3 linked regions of the Homo sapiens genome follow. The protein of the gene in region 1 purifies or fractionates together with the protein of each later gene. This does not show direct contact. Each region holds a gene or a part of one and is shown in the gene's direction. Other genes may lie near its edges.

Region 1 (6,874 bases):
TCAACTGGGCAGCCTCTCTCTGGACAATGCTGGAGAAACAGAGAAAATGTTTTGTGCTTTTGCTTCCGTAGTTCCAGGTTCCACCTTTTTTCTTCTTTCCACAATTCATTAGATTCTCACTTTCTTTTACTTTTAGTCAGGCTTTGGCTAGATTAGATCTTCATTTTAACTTCTTGTTCTCAATTTGTTAATAATGAACAATTGTGGCTTAAGAATTCTGCAGAGAACTAACATGATCTATTAGTGTAGATTTAGCTGGTTATTGAGGAGAGGGGGTTGGAGACATTTCTGATTGTCATGACTGAGAGGGTGCTACTGAAATGTAATGAGCACAAGTCAGAGATGCTTCTGAACATTCTGCAGTGCACAGGACAGCCTTCTAGAGCAAAAATGTATCCAGCCTCAAATGTCAGTTTTGCCGAGGTTGAGAAACCCTGGACTGCAATATGTTCAAGAGGCCAGTGAAGATTACATAATTACTTCTCTGTTGGATAGAGGTTAATCTTGATGCTCTGAAATTATCACTAACACCTATAATGATTTGGCTAACTCTAATGGTTGAGCTTCTGCTTGCGGGCTTTTAAACACCGCCACCTTAAAGTTTAAGGTTACTGCTCACTAAATACACTATTAACCAGTTATCCTTAACCATGTGTAAGTATGGACTCAGCTATCCTACACACTCTGTAGACCATTCCTTATTGTGCACACATGAAGGCTTGACTTCTTTCGGAGTTGTTGCCAAAATTTGTGATGTTGGCAGAACTGAGAGGAAGAAAATAACAAGAAGAAAAGTGGAAGTAAAAATCTTACATAGTGTGAAAATCCACCAGGCTTGTGATGCCTTAAAATTTTTATGAGTGAGATAAAGCACAAATGAATAGAGATTCTACTATGGATGTGAAATACGCCAGCTTTGTTGAAGTGTTTCCCTTCTTCCTTTCTTTCCATAATCAAGAGCTAGAGAGTAAAAGTCATAGAACTGCAAGACATGAACAACTGGGAATTATTATTGTAATAAAGAGAGGTGTTCAGGGTTAGGGTGGAGGAGAGTACAGCAAGTCTCTTGTGGGAAACCCCCCAACCCCACAGAATCAATAATTTTTTTTTTTTTGAGACGGAGTCTTGCTCTGTTGCCCAGGCAGAAGTGCAGTGGCACAATCTTGGCTCACTGCAGCCTCTGCCTCCTGGGTTCCAGCGATTCTCCTGCCTCAGCCTCCCGGGTAGCTGGGATTACAGGCACACGCCACCACGCCCGGCTAATGTTTGTATTTTCAGTAGAGACGGGATTTTGCCATGTTGGCCAGGCTGGTCGAGAACTCCTGACCTTAGGTGATCGGCCCGCCTCGGCCTCCCAAAGTGCTGGGATTACAGGCTTGAGCCACCACGCCCAGCCAAAACCAATAATTTTTTTTTTTTTAAATCTTACTCTTCTGACTTCTGGTGTTAATAGTCTCCTCTTTTCCTATTTAACCCAAAAGAAAAATTTGAGATTTTGATAGGAACTCTGGGCATGTGGACCTTTTAGGCCATACTGAATGCTGATTTTGACGGTAAGGAGGAAGCCATGGCAGGTTCTGAGTTTAGGGGGAAAAGCAGATGGTCCAAGCTGGAGAAATATATCTACAAGAAGAGTATGAATAAGAGAGAAATATTGCAAGTGGATGACAGAAGAAAAAAATCAGTATGAATTTGTCATTCATGGTCAAGTACCAGTTTATGAACTGGTTGTGTTCTTAAACGTTCATCTGACTGTTGGATGAATGGCCCAAGGAGGGCAGAAGGCTGCAGAAGTAATTCATTGGTTGCTGGATAGAAGCTTCAAAAATTCACAGTTTAATGCTCTTGTTTTAAAGAGAAAAAAAAAGCTAGCTCAGAAAAGTTGATCATCTTGCTCAAGACCTCCTTAAGAATTAGAAATAGAGGCTGATTACTGGGATTCCCCAGGCAGTCCACTAACGATTCTGTGTTGTCTCTAAGCAGGAAGGTGGTAAAAACAGTTACTTAATGGCAGTGTGTGGCAGAGGGGAAAGGGCAGGCTGTCCAGGTGACTGAGAAGCAGGCGGGAGAAGAGGAAGTGAAGGCAGTGAAGAAGGAACACTCTCCCAAAACAAGAGGCAGAAAGGGCACTCCGGGTCTGGGTCCCATTCTACCTAGAGAAAACATGCAAGCGCATATTGATTGAGGGCTTTCTACACGGGGGGTTTTGATACCATTTGTTGCCCAGAAGATATGGGGTACAAGTACAGAAATGGCGACAGATGGAGTCTACAAGCTCTTTCCAAACGTTCACATTCCTCAGAACCTCACCCGTTTTCTCGGCCACAAGAAATTATTAATTTATTTGACAAATATTTTAAAAATCACTATTTTGTGCTAGATTTTGTCCCAGGCCACATGGCTGTATTACTGAATAAGACAACTTTTTTTTTTTTTTTAATCTGAAAGTTGCTGGCTAGTGAGACAGATAAAAAGAAAGCAAATACATGTATTTCCGATCAATAATACGGAGTAATATGATAGTGACTGGAGGACCAACCTGGAATTGGGTGGTTAGGAAAAGCCTCTTAGGAGAGATGGCATTTGGGCTGATACCTCAGCGATAACAGGCAGGTATGCAGAGAGCTGGGGATCCAGGTGTCTGGATAGAGAGCACAGCCCAGCAAGCCTGACAGGCTCAAGGAACAGACAGGAGACCAGCATGTGTGTAACTCGCTTAGCAAGAAGATAAAATGAAGTCAGCAGGGGTGAGCCAGGGCACGTCAGATTGACGCATGTACTCATTCAGCAAATATTTATTAAGCACCTACTATGTTCAGGACATTGTTGAGGATACATAAATTAAGAAGAAAAACCACTGGCTCAAGGATTCTGTCGCTGGAGAGAAACTTCAGAGTTTAATAACGTTGATAGAACACCCAAAACAATTCTGCTACAGTTTAGAAATTGATCCATTCCAGACAGAACCACAATGCAGACATTAAGGGACACACATCATCTAAGGCCGTGAGGTCTGAGGTCAGAGATCCAGCCATCTGCTCCCCCAGGGTAGGGAGGTCGGGCCTCCCCGGGGTGAGTCACGTAGCCCACCTCTCCCCACCAGGCGAGGCTTCTCGGTCTTGGTGCATGGGGCAGGGCCGCAGGAAATCCCCCAGCCTAAATCTGCCGCACTCAGAAAACCCAGGCAGGGGAGCCCCCAGAGACCAGGCCTCTGATTAGCACCTGATTCACGGAGGCAGCCAAGGCTGGGTAGCGACTGCTGGTAACTGGCCCCCGGAGTCGCCCCAGGGGAAAAGGCCAAAGGGGGATCTGGAGACCCCCGGCCGGGGAGCGGGCTCCGAGACGAGCGCAGCCGCCCGGTCAGGGCAGCGCCTGCGCGTCCGCCAGGCCCCGCCGCGCAGCCTCGGGTGTCCCGGCGGGGCGGCTCGGGCCGCGCACGCGCTCTGGCCTCCGGGGCCGGCCGCCTGGGAGCCCGAGCCTAGTGCCTCCCACGCCCGGCGGCCGCGAGCCGGGGTCCGCGAGGGCGGAGTGGGGCGCGGCAGCCAGGAACCCGACTACGAATCCCAGGGTGCGGGCGGGCGGAGCGAGGAGGGACGCTGGGCCTGCCCGGTGCGCACGGGGGCGGGGACCGGCAAGGCGGGACCATTTCCCGGCATAGGCTCCGGTGCCCCTGCCCGGCTCCCGCCGGGAAGTTCTAGGCCGCCGCACAGAAAGCCCTGCCCTCCACGCCGGGTCTCTGGAGCGCCCTGGGTTGCCCGGCCGGTCCCTGCCGCTGACTTGTTGACACTGCGAGCACTCAGTCCCTCCCGCGCGCCTCCTCCCCGCCCGCCCCGCCGCTCCTCCTCCCTGTAACATGCCATAGTGCGCCTGCGACCACACGGCCGGGGCGCTAGCGTTCGCCTTCAGCCACCATGGGGAATGGGATGAACAAGGTAACGTCTTCCCTCGTTCGCGCTGGGTTTGCCTCCGCTCCGACGCCCTGCCGTCTCGCCGGCGTCGGCTGCCCGACGACTCGAGCCCGGGGTGCCCTTTCCCGCGGTGGGGACGGGCGCGGAGGGAGGGGCGGCGCGCCTGGGCGGCGACCGCGGAGTCGGGGTTCGGAGGTGTTCCCGCCCCCACCCCACCCGGCTTCCGGGTAGGCAGCCCCCAGCCGCCTGCCTTGCCAGCCGGTGCGTTTTCGTGGCTGAAACAAGCCGCGCCCTTTGAAAGCGTTGACACTTGTTCTGCCGAGAGGTCAGCTGAGCTCCGAATGGATGTGGCTTCTTTTTTGCCCTCCTCTTCGCTCCCAAACTACGCTCTTGAAGCCACCACCGCCCCCCCCACATCATTAGTAAACGGGTGTCCTCTGTAATTTCCTCTTTCTCCTCAGATTCTGTGTGTGTGCCTGTGAGCACAGAGAAGTTTTTCTTGTGGACAGAGAAGTTAACAGAGTCCTAAGTCCTGAGCTGTTTCTAGATAGTGGGGAGGAGAGAAAAGATTCAGAGTTGATTAGGTTATGTGACTTCTGCAACAAGGGCAACCTGTTGCTGGCTGCTTGCGCTGATGAGGCCTTCTGGAAAATCTGTGTTGCTCCATTTGTCCCGTCCGTTTCTGGGCCCCACCCTGTGTTCTTTTGTTGCCCGCACCTCACTTCCCGGGCGGTGGGCTAGCCTTTCCCGTCCAGGGAAGTTGCCAGATTCCAGCTCTGGCAGCTGAGAGTTGCCGGGGTGTATTCATGTGAACCACAGGGTTAAGGATTTTGTTACTTGGTACTTGGCTGGTTTCGAGGAAGGATTGACAAGACTTTACAAAGCCCGCAACAAAGACAAGTACCTTTTTACGGGTCTTTGAATGGTCCTGGATTAGATGAGTCGTCTTTCTGCTTCACTTTTTCATTGCGCTCCACCCACCCACATCTCTACATGCCGTCAGCTTCCACACTGGGTGGGGATGGCAATGTGGCTGTGTTTTTTTTCATGTCCCTCAGCACTGGGTCAGCAGTGGTTTGGGTGTTGGGGCTGGAGTGTTGCAAATGCGGATTCACGGTAGGGCAGGGAAAACCTAGCTAACTTTTCACGTGCGCATGTCGTGTTTATTGTGTCCTGGTTACCCAGTTTGTGAAAGAACTATTGTGTGTTTGGGACCTGCATATCAATACTGGGGTATTTTGGTAAAGAGAATTGTATTCACTTTTTTTTTTTTTTTTTTTTTGGCGAGTGATCAAGTTTGGAAACAGACTGTCTCTCTCTTGGATAAATACTTGTATTATATTCCGATGAGCACTGGAATCCATCAGCACCACGAGCCTTCTGCTTTTTAAATTAAAACAGAACAATAAAGATGGTCATCATAAGTCTGTGGGCTCCGTTTGCCTTCCCATTGGTGGTGGTATCTCAGCTTTCCTTTGGCTGTTTCTAGTTTTCCCACTTGAGCTGTTCACTCTCCACCGTTTTCAGCATTTAATTTATAGTATTTGTGTAATACAATTCAAAAAATATATTTAGGAATACAGATGGTTGCCTAAGGGATCAACGTTATTTTCATGCTTTTCAACAAAAGCAGTAATATTCATATACTTTTTACCTTTCAAAATGGGTAATAAATTTCTTGACTTTTATTATCTTGTGAATAGAGACTCACAGTGTATCAATGAAGAAATACATGTATAGAGAGATTTAGAGACTTCCCTGCTTCAACACTTATTGATTATGTACATACTATGAGCCAGGTGTTGTGCTAGTGGGTGGGGAGGGGGCAAAGGGAGTACAGTGGTAAATGACCCAAAGATTCTTCACAGAACCTTCAGTACAGGTCAGCATTGTCCAGCACTAATATGATGCGAGCTATATATGTAACTTAAAATGTTCCGGTAGCCACATTAAAAAATAAACCGGTGAAATTAATTTTAATAATATATTTTATTTAACAATATATTAAAACTATTGTTTCAACATGTAACCAATATATAAAGTTATTCATGGAAGATTCCATGTTTTTTACTATGTCTTTGTGAAAGGAAAAATCTCGGGACCCCCAGATCACTTAACCTTCAAAGTCTAGTGTGTATTTTATGCCTAAATCACATCTCATTTTGGACTAGCCACATTTGGAGTACTCGATAGTCACTGTGGCTAATGGCTGCTGTGTTGCACAACACAGGGTGTGTATGTGTGTGGGGGTGAGAGAGAGAACAAACACAAGGTAGGGAGGAGTAGAGGCTCCAGAGGATAAAATAGGCAATTTCAGAAAAGTGGGGAAAGCAGAAGATGGGATGAAAGTGACCTAGAAGGGGCATTCAGCCCAGGCAAGGAATCCTGCTGCAGTAAACATGTTTAACGTGAGATCAGGAGGAACTACCCCAAATCACAAGGTTCATTAGTGGCAAAGTAGATCGCAGGAGGCCAGTAACTTAAGAACCTTAACTAGAACTTTTCCATATATTACTGTGTGACTTGGAACGAGGCTTCATCTGTAAAAAAAGAAGAATGGTTGATTTGCAGAATCAGCGGAAGGTGCTACCCCTAGAAATCCTTTTCTAAGAACATTTATAAATATGTGCAATGTCTTTGGAACTAACATAACTTGGAATGTGTGTGCCCTGAGGTTACTGGGACAAGATTTCTTTCCAATCTCGTACACATTGGTCATTTTTGGCAAAAGAGCATTTCTGGTCTAAACAGTGCACGCTGCATTCTGAGTGCTTTGGGACAGCAGTTTTTATCATTCACATCCCTGTGGTGGCTCTTCTTGTCGGTCCGTTCCGGGCTCCTGTACGGCGGAATATTGTGCCCGTTTCCGTTAGGTGTACGCAGCAGATTATACAGAAGATGGAGGGGAAAAAGGCTTTTATATTCTAGAAAATTAAAGATGAGGAAATAAAGACAGGACTGGGCGT
Region 2 (7,036 bases), on another chromosome or scaffold:
AAGAGTGAGAAGGAAGTGACTACATTTTATTTACTTCTATGCGTGTAAGTCCATAAGATCTTATATAAAGTTTCCACTTCGGTTGAGGAATATGTACTTTTTTGAATTACATAGGTTTTTGCTTTATATTGTTTTACAGCATGGCCTCACACCACTGTTACTTGGTGTACATGAGCAAAAACAGCAAGTCGTGAAATTTTTAATTAAGAAAAAAGCGAATTTAAATGCACTGGATAGATATGGAAGGTATAGTTCTTTCTTTTAATCTGTGTGTTGTAGATGGACAGCAGTCACTCAAGTCATAAATATTAAATTAATAAGATTAATGTATACTTACTGGGATGTAGTGATCAGTATCAACACAAATCAGTTAGGTAGAAAAACAATTACTTGGGCTGGGCAACATAAAGAACAGTTTTAGTAGGATTCATCTTCTCTTATTATATTGACTGATGTTATTTGTTATGTGACATTTTTGGTTACATGATCTTATGTTAGCTTAAAGGATTTCATATTAATTTTATGAAGTTTGAACTTTAACTTTTAGTTTACTTTATGACTCAGTATTGAACTTCTTAACCCTTTCTAATAGTTTTTAACCTGTGTCTTACATGCTTTTCCATTAAATATGCTGTATTAAACATAAATAGGGGTTGAAAATCCTTTTGTCTTTTTAATGACTTTGCTTTAAGTTGCTTTCTTTGAAGAATATTAGTGTTAGCTTATCCCTACATAACAATTAATTGCTGTTCCCACATACTGTGGGTTCAACAGCTTTTTTCCTTTTGTTTTTCCAGTGTATTTTGATGTTTTTATTTTTAATTGGTATGGAGAGAGGGAGTGAAGATAGTTTTAAGTGGATACACTTTTCCTTTAATGAAGACAAGCCGTACGTGGGTGATAAAGAGAAAAGAGCTAGGCTTTGGATTCACACAAGACTGGGTTTAATTAGTAACTTTCTTACTTGCTAGGTGTGTGACCTTGGGGACGTTATTTACCACCAAATATGTTGTCATATATGAAAAGTAGGAGAATATATCCTTCAAAGTTGGCTGTGCATAAGTAAGAAAGATATATGTGGCATTTAATTCAGTGCCTAGCACATGGTTATTGGCACCATTAACTGAAACTCCTATGACTACTATTCTTACCATTATTATTACTGCTTTGAGCATGCAGAGAGCTCTTATTTCTCTTACCCCCTAGCTGATTTTCTATTACAGCATGTCAGTCTAGGGAAGCTGTGACAAAATCTTCACTTAAATCTTTGTCCACCTCAGATAAGTGGCCCTAACATTGTTTCTTGCCCATCAAAGGACTTTAAATTAGTAGCTTCTGCTATGCAATACCCCACTGAGATAAGAGGGTTTTTTTTGGTCCCTTCCTTTTAACCTTGGTGGCATTTTACAAAGATGAACACTTGAGCACTCAGGTTGCTTATGTCTTTTAGTGCATGTAAATGTTTGATTCTGCACAGACAGGCAAGATGTTACATTGGTAAAGTATATCAAATTAGCTTTAAAAATAACTTTATTACAGTTCCTATCTCTGTCATTTTAGAACTGCTCTCATACTTGCTGTATGTTGTGGATCAGCAAGTATAGTCAGCCTTCTACTTGAGCAAAATATTGATGTATCTTCTCAAGATCTATCTGGACAGACGGCCAGAGAGTATGCTGTTTCTAGTCATCATCATGTGTAAGTGTTTACATTAAAAGGCTAGTTAATGCTGAATTGAGGTTTAAAATAATTATAACAGTTGCATCTCACATATCAGGTGAGATGTCATAGTTTGGTTCAGGTAGTTTTCGCGTGGCAGTGAGTTTTAGTCCCCTGCATCAGCCAGAAATCAGACAAAAAGCAAGACAAGTTAGAAGTACCAATGGGTGCGGGATTCTTTATCTCAGGACTTTTAAGATCTTTATCCTTAGAGATCCCAGCATTGTTCATTTGATCCAAGTGTAACACCTATGCAGGGATAAAAAATAGTGTCACATCTTTAATTTTTCTGATTAGTTATTTGGGTCTTGAAATGTCCAGTTTAGCGGAAAGTCTTGTACTGTCTTCTGGGGACTATGTCCTACATACTCCTTGAATTTTTCAAGAACCGAAGGAGTTCACTAAATCCAAGGAAGACAGTCCCTTTTATCAAGTCAGAAGGAGGAGGAAAAAAGACATTGCAATCATTCTGTTGTTTCCGTTGATTCTGTTGCTGCTTTGTGGCCACTCAAACTGGTCCTGCTGCCTTAAGATGAATCAGTAGATTCAGATCCCTCAAGTCTTCATGGCGATTCATACAGTGACTTTGATGTTTTTTAATTCCCATACCTATGCTTATATGCTCAGCCATTGTTCCCAGAGCACCAGCCCCCTGCTCTGGCCGCTGGGCATCCTGACTTTATCCGCACACAAAGTGACCAAATTGACCCTTCCCCGCATATTCAGAACCTAATGTGGAACCCACATCTTAGCCAGGAATTAGCTGAGACCTTCATGGTAAGAGATCCTTTGAGGCTGTTGTTGGTCTTTTCTCTGGCAGATGTTAGGTGGGCTTGTTCTAAAGGGTGAGAGGGGTTCAAATAATGTGGCAGAAGGAGGTCAGTGTCTGTTTCCTCTTTGCTACCAGATCTGTACTGTGAGGCACCTTTATATCCTGTATAGAACCTTGGGCAGTAGAAAGTCCCGTATGAACCTTGCCCTGAGCAGTGGCTCCCAGCTGTGGTTGGCCCCTTGAGTGATCTGATTTACATGATAATGAAAATTATCGGAGCTACTTCCATCTCTAGCTCAAGATTTTAAGATATTTTCAAACTCTAGCTCACAGGAAGCCATTGAAGAGAATTCTCAGAATCTCAAGTAGGTTAGTTGGACTTCACAGAGCCAAGCCTTGTCCATGACGCATCACTAATCATATGTAAAAGTAGGGCTTTGTGCTTGCTTCGGCGGCACATATCCTAAAATTGGAACAATACGGGGAAAGTTAGCGTGGCTTCTGCATAAGGAGGCAGGACAGATCTTTGAAGCATTCCATATTTTGTGCAGTCACTGGAAGGTCATTTGACTATTTTTGCTGACTAGCTCTGAGGAAATAGTGTGAATCAAAGCAAAATGGGTGCCACCCAAATATTGAAATTGTGATTTGTGCTGCAAAAATAGTCATGTAAGATGGTCTATGAGATGACTTTGAGCTGAATAACATGTTCCGTGCAAAATATATTGTTAGTATGTATGTCGAAAATTACAGAATGTCAGCTTGCTACTTCTCCGTGGAAACTAAAAAAAAAATAAAAGTAGACTTTTGGTCTCCCATGTCAGCTGGAATTGAACATCAATATAAAGCATTATCCTAACAGACATCTACTGGCTGAGAGTTTGAGTCGGTAGAGAAGGATCGTTGGTCCAAGTCAGGTCTTAACATCCATTGGTTTTTCTGCCCTTGGTGTGATTGATCAACTCCGTAATAGTGGACAATCACATTATCTACTTTAATGAGATATTTATGAATAAATTTAGTTATAAACTATGACATAGTTGAGATGCCCTGAATTATAAGCCATAAAGAGTAGGACAACTAAGAAGCAAAATTAGGACTTAATAACATTTTCTGAAAACTACAACATTTGCATATTAGAACCTATGAACAAAATACGCATTGGGTTTTATTTGGGATTCCAAGATAATTTTAGTCATAAAGTTTAGGAACAGATTATTCCATTGCTTTACTATTTCTCTGAGCATTTAAAAAATGTTATCTCGTTAAATCTTTATAACAACCTAGTGAAATAAGGCAGCAAAGTCCTCACTTTGTTGAAGAAGACATTGAGCCTAAGAGAAGCAAGTTGTCCAAGAACAAATAGCTGTTCATTATGGAGCTAGGACTTATGCAGAGTTGGGACACTTTCTATTATGTCATGCTAATGCTAGCTAATTTACTGGGTCACAGTGCCCTCGATTTATGACTATTTCACCTTACATTTTTTTCTTCTTTAATTAGAAGCTTAAAGAGAAGTTTGTAGAATGTACTCACAAGTGGGTGGGATAATACTATTAAGTTCTGTTATTCTGATATTGTTTGAAATACTCTTAATAATTCTACATTTGGTAAGTTTTTTTATATCAGTATTAAAATAGTAATTTGGTTTATTACATTTTTATACATAGAATTTGCCAGTTACTTTCTGACTACAAAGAAAAACAGATGCTAAAAATCTCTTCTGAAAACAGCAATCCAGGTAAGACTTGTGATAGTGAATTACTTTAGTCAGTTGTCCCCAATCTTTTTGACACCAGGGACCGGTTTTGTGGAAGACAATTTTTCCATGGGCTGGGGGAGGGTGGGGATGGTTTCAGGATTATTCAATCATGTTACATTTATTGTGCTACTTTATATTATTATCACATTGTAATATATAATGAAATAATTATACAACTTACCATAATGTAGAATCCGTGGAAGCTCTGAACTTATTTTTCTGCAACTGGATGGTCTCATCTGGGGGCAAAGTGAGACAGTGACAGATCATCAGGCATTAGATTCTCATACGAAGCACACAACCTAGATCCCTCAGATGGGCAGTTCACAACAGGGTTCATGCTCCAATGAGTATCTAATGCTATCACTGATCTGACTGGAGGCAGAGTAGAGGCTGTAATATGAGCCATAAGGAGTGGCTGTAAATACAGATGAAGCTTCCCTGGCTTGCCTGCTGCTCACCTCCTCCTGTGTGGTGTGGTTCATAATAGTCCATGGACTGGTATGAGTCTGTGGCCTGGGAGTTGAGGACCCCTGCTCTGCGTGGTCCTACCATAGATAAAAAAGTAAAAGTAAGGAATTTTTGATCACAAAAGAACACTGAAGCACAAGTCATGTTACATATGCTTGTCCCAATAAGTTCTCACTATTACTGACTTCATTCCTCCTCATTTGAAGTTGGAAAGAGATATATTTACTTTGTTGGAACAAGATGTGTTCTTCTACCTGCTGGTTAATTGTCATCATAACAGTAATTTTGTTAGAACAAGATGCTCTGCTACCATTTGCCAAAAGATTGTCATAATAAATATACAAATTGCCCAACTCTAGGCTCAGCAGATTATAATAAAAGCAGAAAAACGTTTCACGCTAACAAAAATGCTAGTATGCTACCTGGTTGTGGACACCTAATACATTATATTGTCCAAACTGTGTGAGGACACCTTTAATTTAGTCATCTATTTATCAAAGAGCTTTTGTAAGTTAGGTTTTATAAGTTGCAGGAGACAAAGATGGAATAGATGTAGTTTTGATCTTTAAGGTGCTCATAATAGAGCTGTCTCCATTTCATTTCTGTGCTTTTTCAACAGAATTTACAAAGAAAACATTTCTATTTATGTTTTCACTTGTCCACTTAACATATAACTATCAAATGTCTTTTAGATAGTAACCATTTTTCTAATGCTATAGACCACAAACAATTAAAAATACAGACAGGAGCTTTTTGTTATCATTGTCATTTTCATTATTTTACTACTTTATTCAGTGCTTACTGTGTGCTAGATGCCCACTGGAAGCTTATAATTATGATTTATTATATATTGATTATGTGCCAGACATATGTGATGAGGAATGAAAGTTTTGGGAAAAAGTAGGTATGATTTAAGGTAAGCATGCAGAGAGAGAAGAATTTTTCTAGGTAAAGAAGCAGAAGAAGAATGTTTGGCAGAAGGAACATGCAGCGAGGTCGTGTGTTTGCCAGAAGGAACATCTAATGAGATTGCCTGTTTGGGAGGAAGAGCAGCAAGTGCAAAAGACAAGATGCTTGAGTGAACATGGCAGGGTTTCTGAGCAGTTCACTTTTGCTAGTACCAAAAGTGTGTGATACGAGAGGTTGGGAATGAGGTGAATACTTAGCTAAGGCAAGTTTATGATAGACTTTTTAATACTATAGAAATGAGTAGGTCTTATCCTGTGTGCCATGGGAAATTTACTGGGTAGAATGCTTTGGACTGCAAATACTAGATGAACAGTGGCTAAAACAGTAGGAACCAGAGTTGTTTTGGTTGTTCATTGATATCCTAGGATCCCACTTTTCCCTCTTTCAGCTGTGCTGTTGACAGTGTTTTATTCACGTCTCCTTTCATGGTTGGCTAATCCGCAGCAGCTCCAAACATCTTGTTCTCACAACACAACATCGCAAGGGCTGCTTTTCTTCACATGTGTCTTTTAAACAGGGAGAAAACTTAGAAGCATGCAAAGGGCTTCCTGTAACATTTCACTGGCTGGGTCACACCACATGCTCATTCCCAAACCAGGCACTGGGAAGGTAAATACCTGATTAGCTTAGAATAAACATTTCTGTTTCTGAGGCTGAGGAGGGGGATTGGGATAATAAATATCCCAATAGACTTGGATTTCTTCTTCAAGAAAGAATAAGGAATGGCTATTGATAGGGAGCCAACAATGTGTGCTGCAGGGGCTCATTGGAGAAATTTGAGCAGGGGAGTCACAAGATTAAATTTGAGTATTAAGGCATTCTGGTTATGGTGTAAAACGGGTTAGCAAGCTTTTTCTGTAAATGGCCAGGTGGGCAATATTTTAGACTATGTGGTCTCTGTCATATCTACTTAACCCTGCTGTTGTCTGCTGTTGTAGTGTGAAAGCCACCATGATTATATGTAAGCAAACAGGCATGACTGAGCTCCTATAAAACTTTATTTACAAAGCCATAAGGCAGATTGGATTTGGCCTGTGGCCTATAGTTTGCTGGGATTGATGGAAGGTTCTTTACCATGTAAAGAAACCAGGAGACAAAGGAAGTTTTCGCAGTAGTCAGCTATAGTTTCCTTGTCATACATCCTTGGAGTAGCATCAATGTATTACAAGGTTTTCACCCGTCCTTAGTGAAATACATAAAGTTAGGAATCTCAACTACTTGTTTTAATATGTTGGCCTTTGTTTTTTTGGTGTTATGCTTTTTTCATTTGTTTTGCTTAATTTTTTTTATGTAAGAAATAACATTAATAGTTGGCAGGCTTTTTTTTAAATAAAAGCCATTTT
Region 3 (4,368 bases), on another chromosome or scaffold:
GACTGCCTTGGTAAGGCAACTCAGGGGAGGCCTGGGGAGCCAGAACCGTGTGAGGGTGCCCGAGGCAGCAAGGGAAAGACTCAGAGCACGATGGCCACATTCAGAGATCACATGCCCTGCCCCCAAAGCCCCAGCTGTGGACAAGAATGACTCAGGTCCCTTGGACAGGCTGTCACCAGTGATGACTTAGGACCAGCCTGCCCGGCTCCAGCAAAGCACAGGAAGCTCGAAGGTTTAGAAATGGGTCATTGTTGTGCTGAGGCCATGCGTCAAAGAGGACATCCCACAGCCAGCTCCTATCCTGGCCAGCACTCTTGACAAAGGCAGAGGGAGTGCAGCTTAGTGAGCTGGTCCCTTTACACAGGTTATTCACTCCAGAATCTGGAGAATTCTGTCCTTAAGGAAAAAAAAAAAAAAAACTAAGCTCAAGATCCCACAGCTTGTAAGACCAGGCCTAAGAGTCAAACCTGAATCTCCCCACATGAGAGCACCATGCTCCCCCTCACCCAGCACCCCCTCTGTAGGTGGTGGCCCAGAGGAGATGTTGCCCTGGGCTGCTCTTCCATAGGAGGAAAGACATGATTCACTAATAACTGCATGTCCTGAGAATTCCCTGTTGGGGACCCCAGGACTTCACTAGGGGCATGGCTCTTGGGTGACAGTTGGGAGGTCTCTTCCAGGGTCTCAGTCCAGCCAAGCATGTGGCCTTGCAAGAAGGCAGCTTCTAATGGCTCAGAAACACCAGGGCAGGGGGGCCACAGTCCTTCACACCACACACTTAGTTCCCCAGCTTCAGAACGCTTTAAAACGCTGCAGCATGGAGCCTCACGCTTTCAAAACAGTATTTCATAATATGCCAGGACTTTGTGTTTTATTCGTCCTCTCCCTGTGACCTAGGCTAATGCAGACAATAAAAATGCCACCAAGTTCTGCAAAACTGAAAAAATGAAGTGGGTGATTAGGGGACATTTGATAATGTGCTTTGGTTGAAACTTGAGAAATTATTCCTAGTAACTTTTCCTAAGACTGTGACTATATTTTCCAAGTGAAAAATAAGAGCTAGTGAAAGTAATGTGTGTGTAGATTTCGGAGCAATGGGATTGAGGATTTGGAAGCATGACTTCAGAAACTGAGCCACGTGGTCACCTTCCCTCATTGAATCAATATTCGGTGAATACCCACCTGTGTCTGGAACTGTACTGACCCATGTTAAGCGAGAAAGAGTGATTAATGTGACAAGATGTGGCTCCAATTTCTAAGTCCTCACACTAGAGCGCCCCCTTCTGGAGCCAGTCAGCAGAGAGAGAAGTTTGACTGTGTCCCCCTTGAAACCGTCAACTGTTTGGTCCACTTGAGACCTAGGTAAAATCTGAGGGGACAGCTCACTCTAACCTGGATCTGAACTTAAACTTGAGCCCCGATGACAGAATAATCCCTTTCTGCCTGGAAATGGCCCAAGCCATCTCATGCTGAGGCTTTTTGACATAATCTCTACCACAGCTGTGTATGGGAGCAGTGCTCAGAAAATGCAAGGCGGTCCTCACTCCACGTACGGGCACTCACATGCAGTCTCAGTGTCGGTCTCTTTCTGCAGGTCTAGGCATTAATCCTATTCAGCTGGTTGCATTTTACCCTTATGGGAAGCAGAGTGCTGACTTCCTCCTTTCTCCACCTCTATTCCTTTCCCCTAAACAAATGCAGCCATGCCCTTTACAGGCAGGAGGTTTGGTATTGGGCCGCCTGCCACTCTGAGGATGTTCCTCATTGTTTATCTTGGCTTTTCTCCTTCTCAGATCAACAATAAAGCTTGTGGCAAAATTCCTGTGCCCCAACAAGTTGCCCGGGACCAGGACAAAGTCCACGAATTTGTTCTTCAAAGCGAGCTGGGTGTCAGGCTTTTGCAAGGACGAAGCATCAAGAAGTCCTTCCTTTCCCCGAGAACTGCCCTCATCAACTTCCTGGTGCAAGATTGACAGCCAGGAGGCTGCAGCTACCACGAGGGCCTCTGAGGAACCTCCTTCCAGGCCTGGGATGAGGGGGCGATGTCTGCTGGCCCAGGGGAAGGGAAAAGACAAATGTCTTGACTGTTGACCTCGGTCCTGTGGCAGACTGCAGTCAACAGTGTGCCTCTGTAGTGTGGCCTGGTGCTGGGGTGAAGGTGAGCTGGGCAAAGGAGAAATATGAGCTACTGAGGAGGGGGTTGGACATCCTGCCCCTCACCCCCCACCCACACTGCAGGTAGAGGAGGCCATCTGATCCCATGGGAAGCCATCAGAGACACTGCTGGTGGGAGCAGGAAGGAGCAGTGCCCCTCGAGCAGCCAGGAAGCCTGCGGATCTGGGAAATGGCTCTGCCTTAGGCACTTCTCGGGAATTTGAGGCCAGCCTGAGGAACTGCAGGACTCAGGTGCAATGTGCCAGCCACTTGGAACTGCTAACTGAGCCTCCAGATGGTAGTGAATGGTCTCTTTGCCTTCAGGCTGGATGAGGAAGTCATTTAGGAAATGTTCAAATAACCAATATGTGGAAATGGACACAGGGATCTTCTGAAGTTGCTTTGAATCAAAAGGCAGGCAGTGCTGGTTCCTCTGCCTGTGTCCCCACCACTCCCCAGCTCTGTCATGCAGGCCTGTCCTCCCCAACCCCAGCTGGATGTGCCTCCCAGGCCTGCTGTGGTTCTGACACACAGGATCCCAGGCAAGGCACCACTTCCTCACATGAATGAGGAGCAGCAAGTCATAACCACTCCCTTGGGTATACAATTTGCTGTGTAGTGAAGTGGAACCAGGCTCAGGCTGCTGGTCCCAACCTCAGAGCCCCACCGCAGCCCAGTAGGGATGCAGCACGCCCCAGAGGGCTCATGTGGGCCCCAGATGGCAATGCCACCATTGTTGATGTGACTCCAGAGCCAGTTATTAGGAAGAGCAAGCTCACCACAGAGGAGTGGAACTGAGGCCCCCCAGATGTTGCCTCCGGTGTCCAAGCCACAGCGGTCTGGCTGTTGGGAAGATGGCCAGGAATGGACTCATACCATTGGCACATTAGGCTAATCCTGGTTTTATGTGAAGTCAGCAATTAAGTGTTCCCACTAGAACTGACCTAAGCCACTGATTAATATTTAATGAGGGAAGGTAGGGGAGAATCTAGCCATTTTATAATGCCAGAAATCTATATATGTTATCTGATGCCATTTTTCTGAAGTAGCCTCACATGTGGTCCCCCTGCAGTTCAGCAGTTAACAGATGACTTTTTTAGTGTAATAAAATGTTTATCATCTATGACTTCAGGACATATGTGTGATCCTGGAATACACCATATTCCAATTTCAGAGTTAATTACAAACAGATTGAGGTATTCCATCATCATCGGAAGCATTGGCTGTGTGTCTGACTCCACATGGAATGCTATAAAGTGGGATACATGTGGTTCTTCTTGTTCCAGAACTTACAGTCCATGGTAGACAACACTGATACAGGCAAACTAGCAACAGCAATTAAGTCACTGGTTCTCAGACTTAATACTCTGCCTGGTCCTCATGCCCAGATATTCCAATTTAATTGGTCCATGGTGTGGCTTGAACACCAGGAATCTTTAAAACTCCACAAGTGATTCTAATGGGCAGCAAAGTTTGAGAATCACTGGACACATTGATGCACTTGAGCCATCATTTCTATCTAGTTCTTCCTCTTCCTAATCTTCAGGTTAGCGGGGATAAGTTTGGTCCAGGACCAAGAGTTGGACCAAAAGGGAAGACAGGGGCCAGAAGTCTAGAGTGCTAGAGCCGACTTGAATGTACTCAGTCTCATTGCACATGGCAGTGAATATGGATTAAATATAAGCCCATGAAAATATTTGGTACAAGGAAGGAGTGAGTGATTTTGATTATCTTGTTATTTCCTAGTAAGCTAAGTGGTCTTGAACAAGATGAGGGAAGGGAGCCCTTTATTTGCATGTGATCTGACCAGAGCAATGGGCCAGTAAAGCCTCAAGGCTGCTAGACTGACCAGCTGGCTGACACCAGCATGGCTCTGAAGAAATTGCTCCAAGAGGATAAAGCTTTTGCAAACAAGAGCTCATCAGTACATACTAAGAGACAGTATGGGTAATGGAACAACTGGACAGAAAACTCTGACCCCTGGGAGTGAGGTGGTGGGGAATAATCTCAGCCATTTATTGACTGTCTTGTTGAGGTCAGAAACTGGACTCAGCAGGTTCACAATAATTATCTTATTTAATTCCCACAAAAACTCTAGAGGGAAGGAATTATTCTCTCATAAAAGAAGAAACCCAGGCTCTGAGGTTCAATAATTGTCTCAGTTTTCACAGCTAATAAGTAGGAGAACTGGGATCCAAGCCCACATCTTCTGTC

Evidence for each region.
Region 2: the proteins of DUSP22 (region 1) and POTEF purify together in Homo sapiens (affinity purification with mass spectrometry; 2 studies listed by BioGRID and IntAct, with this or other methods). This does not show direct contact.
Region 3: the proteins of DUSP22 (region 1) and LARS2 purify together in Homo sapiens (affinity purification with mass spectrometry; 2 studies listed by BioGRID and IntAct, with this or other methods). This does not show direct contact.

The regions. Positions count from the first base shown.
Region 1 is NC_000006.12:288,629-295,502, forward strand, and holds the start of DUSP22 (dual specificity protein phosphatase 22), read left to right. Parts: upstream 1-3,858; 5' UTR 3,859-3,911; coding exon 3,912-3,932; intron 3,933-6,874. UniProt on the Homo sapiens protein: Dual specificity phosphatase; can dephosphorylate both phosphotyrosine and phosphoserine or phosphothreonine residues. Activates the JNK signaling pathway.
Region 2 is NC_000002.12:130,105,205-130,112,240, reverse strand, and holds part of POTEF (POTE ankyrin domain family member F), read left to right. Parts: intron 1-139; coding exon 140-246; intron 247-1,560; coding exon 1,561-1,698; intron 1,699-1,883; exon of another isoform or gene 1,884-2,954; intron 2,955-4,156; exon of another isoform or gene 4,157-4,161; coding exon 4,162-4,232; intron 4,233-4,434; exon of another isoform or gene 4,435-4,654; intron 4,655-7,036.
Region 3 is NC_000003.12:45,545,558-45,549,925, forward strand, and holds the end of LARS2 (leucine--tRNA ligase, mitochondrial), read left to right. Parts: intron 1-1,793; coding exon 1,794-1,973; 3' UTR 1,974-3,850; downstream 3,851-4,368.